4 separate regions of the Homo sapiens genome follow, and all the other regions are linked to region 3. The links come from fine-mapping of genetic effects on gene expression. A gene starts in region 3. Each other region holds a variant in brackets. All regions are shown on one strand. Distances are between the middles of the regions.

Region 1 (2,690 bases), 40 kb before region 3:
TTACACTTCTCAGCCCTATTGTTTTCTTTAGGCTCTGGCCAAATAACTGACTTGCTCTTTGAGTTTCAGCATCCTTTTGTCCGCAGAGGTAGCCCTGATTTCTGGTGGGCTTGCGCTTTGTAAAAAAAGGCTGGCATGCTCCTGGCCAGCCTTTTCTTTTCTTCTCTGTTTAATTGGATAAAAGCACTGAAACAAATGCCTCATGTTTTTTAAGATATGCTTTAAGAGTCCATAGCAAGAACTGGGCATCTTGTACCAAGAATTTCTGCCAATCACCTCTCCTGTGCTGGATGACTCTTCTCCATAGGGTGAATGGGCTCCAATCCTGCAACCCCTAATTTATCTCCTTCTGCTATGAGTATCCTAAGGTCCTCTTTCTCTTGATTTGTTGATAATATCTTGTCCAGGATCACCTCTTCTGTCTGACCTGCTTGAGGGTTTCTTCTAAGAAGCTTCATGGGCACAGCTATAAAGTCAGCCCTTGAATCATACATGGGTTGATGAGAAACAAAACTTAGACTGGGGAAGGGGTTGGGAATGGGGATTGTTAAACAGTGTTTTGTATCTGAAGACTTCAAAAAGTGTATCCCAAGCCACATAATTTGGGCTTCTAAAAACTTTTGAGGACATAGATAAAAAAGGAAAAGTCTTGAGACTAGTTCTGATAATATTCCAGTCACAAGACTGTCAAATGTCTGGTTCTGACTTCCTAGGATGAAGTTCCCTGGATTGAGCAGTGTAGAGTGTGCAGCAGTCCATGAAGGACACATCCCCCCAGAATTGATCTTCCCATATTCTTGCCCAACTGTATGTTCTAGATGTTTTCAGTCTTTCTGGTTTAGATTTTCCCTTGGGCCTCTTGATAATCCATTCTTTGAGTACCTTACCGAGCCACATTTTGTCCCTTCCCAGAGGACCCTTCACTGAATAGATTTCTAAACCCCTCATTAGGTTACATTTAGGGCCCCTCATGGACCAATGGAGGAGGCCTTTGTCCAAGACCTTGCTTAGCTGGAACTTGGGTGGGCCTCTCCCATAAAGCCTTGTTACCGTAGGAAAACAAAACAATGAATTAATGGAACCCATGGGCAGGTCAACTTGGTGAGAATT[T/C]GAGATCTTGGGAGAGTGTGGGGTCAGGTGAGGTGGTGAGGTCCAAAAACAAAGGCAGGTACTGGTTGCAAAATAGGATCCCAAGTGTGTTCTGAGTATAGAAGGATCCGAGTGTGTTCTGTGAGTAGAAGGCAAAGGGGGTGGCAAAATATGATCCATGAACAATCTTGGATCCAGTATCACACAGTGCTGTGATTGAAGAAAGGCACCCAGTCGTGATAATGAAAAGAAGGAAAGTGAGGGGATACTTCAATCCAGTCTGAGGTCAGAAGTATGTAAGCAAGAATGAATGATGACTCAATTGAGCCCGTGGGGAGAGAGAGAGAGACAGACAGACAGACGGACAAACATCTTCCCTCAGCTCCTGGCACTAAACAATATGTGTGTTATGGTCTGAATGTGTGAGTCTCCCAAAATTCATAGGTTGAAATCATAACCCCCAAGATGATGGTATTATTAAGAGGTGGTGCCTTTGTGGGGTGATTAGGTCATGAAGGTGGAACCCTCATGAGTGAGATTAATGCCCTTATAAAAGAGAACACCGAGAGCTAGCTAGCTGCTTCCACCATATGAGGTTACAGTGAGAAGATATGCCCTCATTAGACACTGAATCCACCTGGATCTTGGGCTGTGCAGTCTCCAAAACTATGAGAAATAAATTTCTGTGGTTTATAAGCCATACAGCTTGTGGTATTTTTATAGTCCATTGTCAAATGGACTCAGACAGTACATTTTCATGGTTGCTCTATCTTGCTCCTTACACCATGGATTTTGATGTAACTGCTCTATACATCTATCCTCAAAAGGAAGCACATGCAGGTGCCTATAGGATACAAGATGCAAAAAGTGTGTCCTGGAGGAGAATGGGGATAGTCTTGACTGGCAGGCTTAGTGATGTCCCATTTTCCCATGTTGACAGCTGTTGTGGGACCTCAAGTTCTTGCCTTCTTAGTTAAAAAGAATTTAAACAAGAGACACACAGCGAAGTAAATGCAGTATACAGTAGTTTATTGCAAAAGAAAAAGAATATTTTGAGAGTTAAGTGCAGAATAGACAGTACACCCTGAGGGAGAGAGGATTCAGGGTGGGCTATTCGTAAGAATGAGACAGTAAAGACTGGCACTAGGGCGACTCCCTTTATGGGAGTTGGACATGATTATTCATAAGGGGTTGGGAAAAGTTGTTACTAGTAAGCATATTCTGGGTGGTTTTCTGGGTGCACAGATGCAGTAGCAGTACATATTTGTTCATAGATTGCATATCTCATTAGCATCTTAAATCTCCACCCAGGGGTATGTTTTTTACTATTATAATGAGCAAAGAGTCAGTTTGAGGACAGGTGAAATCAAAATGCACATACTCTCTGCAGGGGAAATTCCCTACTAGAGATAGCTTTGCTTGAATGAGCTGGACTACAATGCGAATGCTGAGGTTTATTGTGTTGACTGTACCATCATGGCTGCCATGTCCTGAGGACATTGCTACTTCCTTGACTGCCTATCCTGCCTCACCCACATCTCTGAATTTGCCACTCTCCTTTTATCACTTATCCCACCACTTCCTTTCACATTTCATTCCTA
Region 2 (2,690 bases), 34 kb before region 3:
CTCTGGAATGCTTGACCAAAACCTCCAAGGGTATAAAATATCTAGTCTTTCTGCTTTCAGCAGGCTCTCCTAAATCAATTCCTAAATATCATTCAGTCATCCAAACTGCGTAAAGAATATCATCACACTTTCAAGTTATTAGTCTGAAAAGAAATCTCACACTGATGAAGAAACAAAGTAAATATAGTTAATATAGAGAATCAATTAATTAAAAAATCATTCATTTCAACTTGCAAGAGGGATGACTACACATGTTGGTAATAATCAAGTTTGCAGCCTATTTCCCCCAAAATGCACACTTCCTTGAGGTATATAAAGTTTTTACAATAGAATCTCATCTACTCTAACCTAAAGTTGGAAGTTGTCCCCCTAGCTAGTGATGAACACTTGGTAAACTTTGGAGAAAAAGTTGGAAGGCGAATGTCCCACTGCGTGTCTTGGAATAGTTGCTTCTTTCTTATGAAGACAGATGTGATAGAAACCATGAGAGCGCTGCACAAAGCAGCTGAAGCTGATGGGTGACATTCAGGTAGACAGCTTGGGGTCAACAGAGCAACCAGTGCATCTACAATATTGAAGGACAAGCTGGAGAGAACCTCAGATATAGATCAAAATATCCAGGTGGTAAATCAATACACATGAACTGCAGATCAGCCCTGTTAATGTTGTATTTTTTTTAGTGTGTTTCTTTCTTTCATTCTCATCTTTGTTGGTAATGTAATATTTTTCCCAGATTCATTAAAGAAAATAATATATATAGTTATATATACATATATATATATGAATTATATCTTCATTGGGAATTAAGTCAAACTAATTAATATTTATCACCTCACATGCTTCGAATCCTGTGCTGAGAATTCTGAAATCTGCTCTCATAGCCATCTTCAAGTGTACAATACATATGTATAACTATATTCACATTGCCATGTCATAAATATCCAGAAATCTCTAGTTAACTTTCTGATAAATTGTATCCTTTGACCAACATCTCCCTATGCCCATCTTGCCCCTGCCCTAGGCCATGAAGCCCAACTATCCACTCTAAACTTCTATAATTTTCACCTTTGTTGATCCCACATACAAGTGAGATCACGCAATATCAACATTACAGGCCTGGATTGCCCACTAGACAGGAAAACTTCAGGTTTATTCATGAAGTCAAAAATGACAGATTTTCCACTAAAAATGTGAATAGTATTCCTTTTTATGTCTCCACTGATGCCTAGGAAAATTTTGTACCTTACAAAAAGAAAAAGCCTACAACCAACATAATCTCGTACATATTTACTGTGTACATGGATTTCCTTAGGCTGTATGCCCAGATGGGAATGCTTAGATCCCAGTTCCACTAATTATTAATTAAACAGCTTCCACATTGCTCCTTACCACCACTGGCCTAAT[T/G]GACTATCTCAGCAACATTGCACCAGGATGCCCTTTTCTCCCCATATTAGACAATAATTATCTTCCGGGCATCTCAGAAAACAAGCTGAACAACAAACCCTCTAGAAAGGCCACACTACAATCCATGCTGACTCGTTTGGAGGGCCCTTGAGATGTATATAAAAGACTTAAGACCATGAATGAATCCCATGACACTAGCATTCCAGACATTAAAATTTCTTTTCAGCTTTTCCCTTTTGGGCACAGCTCTTTGGAAACAAATTTTCTATGGCTTGCCAAAAACAGGCAGGGCCCCAAATATCTGAATCTCCTTTCCCAAACTTCCTGAGTTTCTACCCGATTCCTGCCGACAATTGAGCTCTTTCTTTGACTCACGTGCTCACAAAGCAAAGAAGAAGGCTGTAGAGATAAACACAGGAACCCATCGGCAGCTGGATCAGTCCAGTTTAAACGACAATAAATATGATACACACTAACCGTGTGTGACGTCTTCATTAGGGAATTCACTAGAATCGGCCGAATTCACACACTTATCACCACACATGCGTCCCCTGTCCCCGCTCAGGAGAATTTTCAGCTCTACTCCCGTGGATATATTCACGAGAACCTTACATTCTGCTCCACCGTACTCACGTTGCCCTGCCACGGATATCCAGGAAGCACTCCACCTGTCTCTCGGAAACTTTGTGCCCTTTGACCCACATCTCGCATTGGCATCCTTTCCCTGCCCCTACACCTGCCCCTACACCGGCCCCAGGCCCAGCCAACCACCTTTCTCCTCTCTACTTTCCTGATCCTCACAGCATTTTCTCCATCCAACATCACAAGGAGATCACGCAATACGGGTCGGATGGGCCTGGCTGATTTCACTGGGCACCATGACTTTTGGGTCCATGCATAACGTCCCAGATGACAGGCTTTCCTTTCCTTTCCCTGATGTGTTTGTTCTACGAACCCTATTCATTTGTCCTTCTCTAGTCATCTGCTGAAGGGTACTTCGGTCGATTCCACGTCTTGGTTACAGGCAGCGTGCCGACAACCAATGCAGCAGGACACATATTTGCACCACAACCCGATTTCGTGTCCTTAGGCGATACGTCCAGAAGTGGGATGACTGGATCCCAGTTCCAGCGGTGATTTCTTGAGCAACCCCCCCGTATCGCTCCCGGCCACCCCTTGAGCAGCCCTTACTGTGTTGGCACCTCCCACACCCAGCTGGCCACGCAGCCCTGTCCTCAGGCCTCACTCCTCTCTGCGCCAGGTCCAAGGCAGAGACAGCGAGCCTG
Region 3 (2,690 bases):
TTCAAGCCATCAATTATTTTTCAGTCTTCACTGAGTCCTTAGTTTAGTATTGCTGGATAACAAATTATCACCAGCTTTAGTGGATTAAAGTATCACAAACCTATTATCTCACAGATTCTGTAACCTGGAAGTCTGTGTATATCATGGTTAGGGTGATGGTTAATTTTATCGGTCAACTTGACTGGGCTAAAGGATGCCCAGAAAACTGGTGAAACATTGTTTCTGGGTTTGTTAGTGTGTTTCTGGGAAAAGATTAGCATTTGAATTAGCAAACTGAATAAAAAAGCCCCCACCAATGTGGGTGGCCACCACCTAATCCACTGAGGGCCTGAAAGGACAAAAAGGAAAAGGAAGGGTGAATCCTCTTTTCTATTTTTTTTTAATCTTTAACTTTTGTGGGTACATAGTAGGTGAGTATATTTATGGGGTACATGAAGTAGTTTGATACAGGCATGCACAGTGCAATAATCACATCATGGAAAATGGGGTATCTATCCCCTCAAGCATTTATCTTCTGTGTTACAATCCATTTATACTTTGTTATTTCGAAATGTACAACTAAATTATTATTGGATATATACACCTGTAGTGCTATCAAATACTAGGTCTTATTCCTTCTTTCTTTTCTTTTTTTTTAAAAACCCGTTAAGTATCCCCACTTCCCTCCCACCTTTTCTTTTTTCTTGAGCTGGGACATTCATCTTCTGCCTTTTGACATTGGAGACCCTGGTTTTCTGGCCTTTGGACTCTGGACTTACATCATCCCTACCCCTCTCCACTCTTTTTCCAGTACCTTGCATAGCGCAGCACCTAACCTGCACATATTCAATGAATGCAATTAATGCATGAAATGGCGCATTAAGGAATTATTTCTCCAAGTGCTTGATTATTCTGGTGAAATATCTTCACCAAACCCGGGCTCTCACGGAGGAGTGGTGTGTTTACTTAAGTTTCTGTTTCAGTTTTTCTTATTGTTCTTATACTATATATGAAAAGATTTATCGTATATCTCAAAGATTAACGTCCTCTCCCTATAAAATAATGTTATTTGTTCGATCAGGCTTTTCTCCGTTATGCTTCCAATTTCTCGCATCCTGCCTTTCTAAAGTCCGCACTAAGCGTTGTGATTCCCGGACTTCTAGCCGCTGGCCGCACTGACATGTATTCGGAAAAGCAATTCCAAATTCTGTAAAATATCTTCCGGCAGTGATGCGATCCGAACTCCGGCAGTGGGTTGTCAGGCCCAGGTCAGTCCTGTAGTGCGTAACGGAACTCGGTTCCGGCTGGCTCTGATCGCATCACTCCTGCATCCTGCAAGTAACGCCCTCGCCAGCTTCCACCTCCCGATCTAATTGTCCCAGAAGTCCCCGCACTTCCGCTGTACGGCTGAGTGTTTGCCAAGATGGCCGCGCCCGTGCGCTATTACCGAAGGGCGCCGCCATCGCGGCTGCCGGACCCGCTAAGGCCGCCCTCCGGGTAGCCGCCATGTCGGTCTCCAGCGGCGTCCAGATTCTGACAAAGCCAGAGACCGTGGACCGGAGGAGAAGTGCGGAAACGACCAAAGAGGCCGGGCGACCACTGGAGATGGCTGTGTCCGAGCCCGAGGCCAGCGCCGCGGTGAGAGCTGTGATGAGACAGGGTGTTTTGGCGGTCAGAGATGGTGTACTTGCGGGGCAGTGATTGGAGTAGTCTGTGACGATAGGTGATTTGGGAATTGGTGGAATCGATGCTAGATGGTCTTTTGGGAGGTCGGTGTTCTGAGTTATCTGTGGGGTTAATGATTTGGCTTTAGGATATCAGTATTAGGAGGGATCTGCAGAGACAATGATGGGGAGGCGTCTGTGGCAGTCACCGAGTGTCGGAGTTTGGAAGGAGATCAGAAATGGAGGCTTTGTGATGTGTCAGAGATAGGGAAGGACCGTGGGGGTTGGCGGTTTGGGATGTCTATGGGAGCCAGCGATTATGGGTGCCTGTGGTGGTTAGAGCCTGGGTTATCAAAGAGGGTCAGTGTTAGGATTTGGGAAATTCAGTGATTGGGAGCATCTGGGAGCATCAGAGATTGGGGCTTGGGAGTCAGTGACGGTGATGTCTGTGGAAGTTTGATTAGCAGTATCTTTGAGGGTCAGTGGGTAATGGAGGAATCGGGGGGCCAGTGAGGGGGGAATATGACTGTTGGAGTTTGGGGAGTCAATGTTGAGGTGTCTCTGGGGATGGTAGATGATTTGTATGTCATCTGGGGAGAAAAGGTAATTGGGGATGTATGCAGGTCAATAATTAGGTGGTGTCTAGCAGTAATAACTGTGCTTTGAGTAATGAGGTGATTAGTAGGAATTAATGATTGAAGATCCTCTATGATTCTGTGACTAGAAGTCTAAGGGGGTCAGGAGTTTGAGGGGATTGCTGCATTTAATGATTGAGGGTTCTTTGGTGGTCAGTGATTGGAGATCTGTGGAGGTTAATGATTGTTCTGTGGAGAGTGATAGTTGGGAACTTGCAGAGATCCATAATTGGGAGAAGTTTGTGAAGGTTAGTGATTGGGGAGTATTTGGGTGTCAGTGATTGAAAACTTGCAGGAACAGTAGGAACAGTCTGTAAGATGAGCATTTATTTTATGCCAGGGGGTATTTTTTATTTTATTTGTTTGGTGTTGTTGTTTTGCAGTCCCTGCTTTGTCCTCAAAACCAGGGAAT
Region 4 (2,690 bases), 45 kb before region 3:
GAAAGGTATGGGATAGAAGTGTATTCACTACCACTCTCTCTGATCAAACCTTGGAGGGGAGCAACGGAGTCCCAGATGTATCCAGGAAGGGGGTCTTGCTTATAGTTTTCACAGCATTGCCTGGGATACAACAGATAATTCCTAGTTGCTATTGTGGGCTATGAATGAGCTAGAATGGGTTCTATATGTCAATGTGGCGGGTGCTGGAAAATTATTTTTAATGATTACATTTTCTTTGACATGTAGTCTCCATTGTTGCTACAGATGGAGAAGAGAAACAGGAGGATTGCATACAGAAAATATATATAGCCAAGTACAAACATGGCATCCATGACTTTTCTTCATGTTGCATTGAGCAAACTCACTCATGGGGCCCCAACTAACTGCAAGGGATGCAATATTTTGCTGTGTCCAAGGGGAAAGTGAATTGGGCTTGGTGAACATATAGCATAGACTCTACTGCAGAGTGGTCTTTAGGTCACCAAAATTCATGTTTCTCTTTCCCCCTCAGGTAGAGCACATTCACTATATCTCCAAAGAAGATGTTAGGAGCCAGCCAAAGTATTATCTAGTAATGCATCCACATCAGTGTTCTGGAACGTGGGGTTGGTCATGTGTACTCTTCCCCATAGTGGCTGGATGTGGCTCTGTGTATATTGTGGAGACAAGGTAATGATGATAAAGACCCCCACTCAGATAGGGATAAATAGGAAACACACAGCAATTTTTATTGCCTACTGGGTGAGCATTATAAAATGTGAATATTTTCCTCAATGAAAAGTAAGAAGAGAACTAGGTTCTCATGAAAAAGTGGCAAAATGGTTTTTACAAACTCTGGCGACTCATATATTTTAAAGTTGCCTAATCAACTGAAATGTATGTATGTAAGCATGGGTATATTCACTAAAGCCTAGAACTAATGATGACCTTAGCAGCAAAGGAATAAAAATATGTTCAATAATTAGTCAGATTGATTGAAATTTGTTTTTTTGTTTGTTTGTTTTTGAGATGGAGTCTTGCTCTGTCGCCCAGGCTGGAGTGCAGTGGCACAATCTCGGCTCACTGCAACCTCCGCCTCCTGGTTCAAGCAATTCTCCTGCTTCAGCCTCTCAAGTAGCT[C/G]GGACTACAGGCATGTGCCACCACACCCGGCTAATTTTTTGTATTTTTAGTAGAGACAGGGTTTCACCATGTTAGCAAGGATGGTATCAATCTTCTGACCTCGTGATCAGCCCACCTCGGCCCCCCAAAGTGCTGGGATCATAGGCGTGAGCCACTGCGTCCGGCCTGAACTTTCTTTTTATATGTTTATTTTGCAGATAGTATTTCTTAGAATTTATATTTTGGAGAACAAAAGGTACTCATGTACATGTATAATAGTTTTATTTTATAACATAAAATTGCAGGCTCAAGCTGAAGGCTTTGAGGCCAGTACATGGAGTGACCTCAATGGACTCGAGTGGTAGCAAGCTGAATTTGGTCTCCATCATATCTTTCTGCCCCCTATTGTTACTTCCCTGACTATATTACATTTTGTAGCCAAAGGGATTTTGCAGATGCAATTAAGGTTACTAATCCATTGACAGAAAATGATCTTCTCAGTGGGCCTAATCTAATCACACGAGCCCTTAAAAACGGAAAGCTTGCTCTGCCTGGCAGAGAAAGATTCCAAGTTAGAGACTCCACAAGTTGTTGCTGCTTTGAAGATGGAGACAGCCATGTTAGAGAGAATACAGGAAGCCCAGAGGAGCAGATGGCAGCTCCCAGCTGACAGTCAGAAAAGGAAAACCTGCCTCAGACTTGTAGGTGTAAGGAATTTGATTTTTCCCAACATCCTGAATGAACTTCAAAGTTGATTTTCCCCCAGAATCTCCAGACAGGAGCCCAAATAGCTGCAGCCTTGATTTCAACCTTGGGGATCATGTGCAGAGTGTCCAGTAGATTCCATCCAGACTTCTGAATCCACCTACAGAATTGTGAGATAATAAATGGGTGTTCTTTTAAGAACAAAGTTTGTGGTGGTATTGCAGTGGCCATGGAAAATTTGTACAGTAGTTAATAGTATTACTATTATTGTTATTACTATTACTATTTTCATCTCCACAGAGTTACACCACAGAAGGTACATGCATCTGCAGCAGGCCCAGCTCAGTCAACACCTCTCTGAGTACATTCTAAAGCCACAGCATGCATGAGATTCTGAGGGCCCAGGGTCACTTCTGAACACAGCAGCCCCCCAAAGACTCACAAGGCCAATCACTGCCCACTGAGGCAGAGGTGGGGGATCCATCAGAAAGGGCTGAAAGAAGCTCTAGTAACCCAGAAGTGTCCTCCAGGACCTAATTTGTGAGGTTACACTTCTACTTCTTGTCTTCTGGAAGCCATGAAGGCAGAGCTCATGTTCCAGAGTGAAGTCTTTAGTGACCTCCACTGGACAGTTTGAGTTGGATGCCTATCAGGCCTCCTTCCCTCCCCTTTTAGGATGGGTCCATCCCAAGACATGATGGGCAAGCCCTATCCCCAGATACACCTCCCATCGGTCATTTGGTTTCCTAAGTGGTTCCTGAGTACCACATAAATGCTAAGCACTAGATGCTGGGGATACTAGATGCTCACTAGATAGCAGTGAGCAACCTACATAAAATGCATGGCCTGTAGGAATCCATGGAGGGGAGCTCCCAGGACTGTATCAA

Evidence for each region.
Region 1: its variant is fine-mapped to the expression of ZFP37 in lung (TOPMed, PIP 0.91).
Region 2: its variant is fine-mapped to the expression of ZFP37 in whole blood (TOPMed, PIP above 0.99).
Region 4: its variant is fine-mapped to the expression of ZFP37 in pancreas (GTEx, PIP above 0.99). The same link has a PIP of 0.9 or more in whole blood.

Annotation. Positions count from the first base shown.
Region 1 is chr9:113,095,364-113,098,053 of GRCh38, reverse strand. No RefSeq gene overlaps it. Among named protein-coding and RNA genes, the nearest start is that of FAM225B, 15 kb to the left of the region's middle. The variant T/C (reference allele first, on the strand shown) is at 1,111.
Region 2 is chr9:113,089,973-113,092,662 of GRCh38, reverse strand. No RefSeq gene overlaps it. Among named protein-coding and RNA genes, the nearest start is that of FAM225B, 20 kb to the left of the region's middle. The variant T/G (reference allele first, on the strand shown) is at 1,405.
Region 3 is chr9:113,055,484-113,058,173 of GRCh38, reverse strand. It overlaps ZFP37 (ZFP37 zinc finger protein), which reads left to right and starts at 1,450. Exons shown (of 4, transcript NM_003408.3): 1 at 1,450-1,617. The coding sequence starts at 1,486. RefSeq lists an enhancer at 1,250-1,819.
Region 4 is chr9:113,100,395-113,103,084 of GRCh38, reverse strand. No RefSeq gene overlaps it. Among named protein-coding and RNA genes, the nearest start is that of FAM225B, 9.9 kb to the left of the region's middle. The variant C/G (reference allele first, on the strand shown) is at 1,120.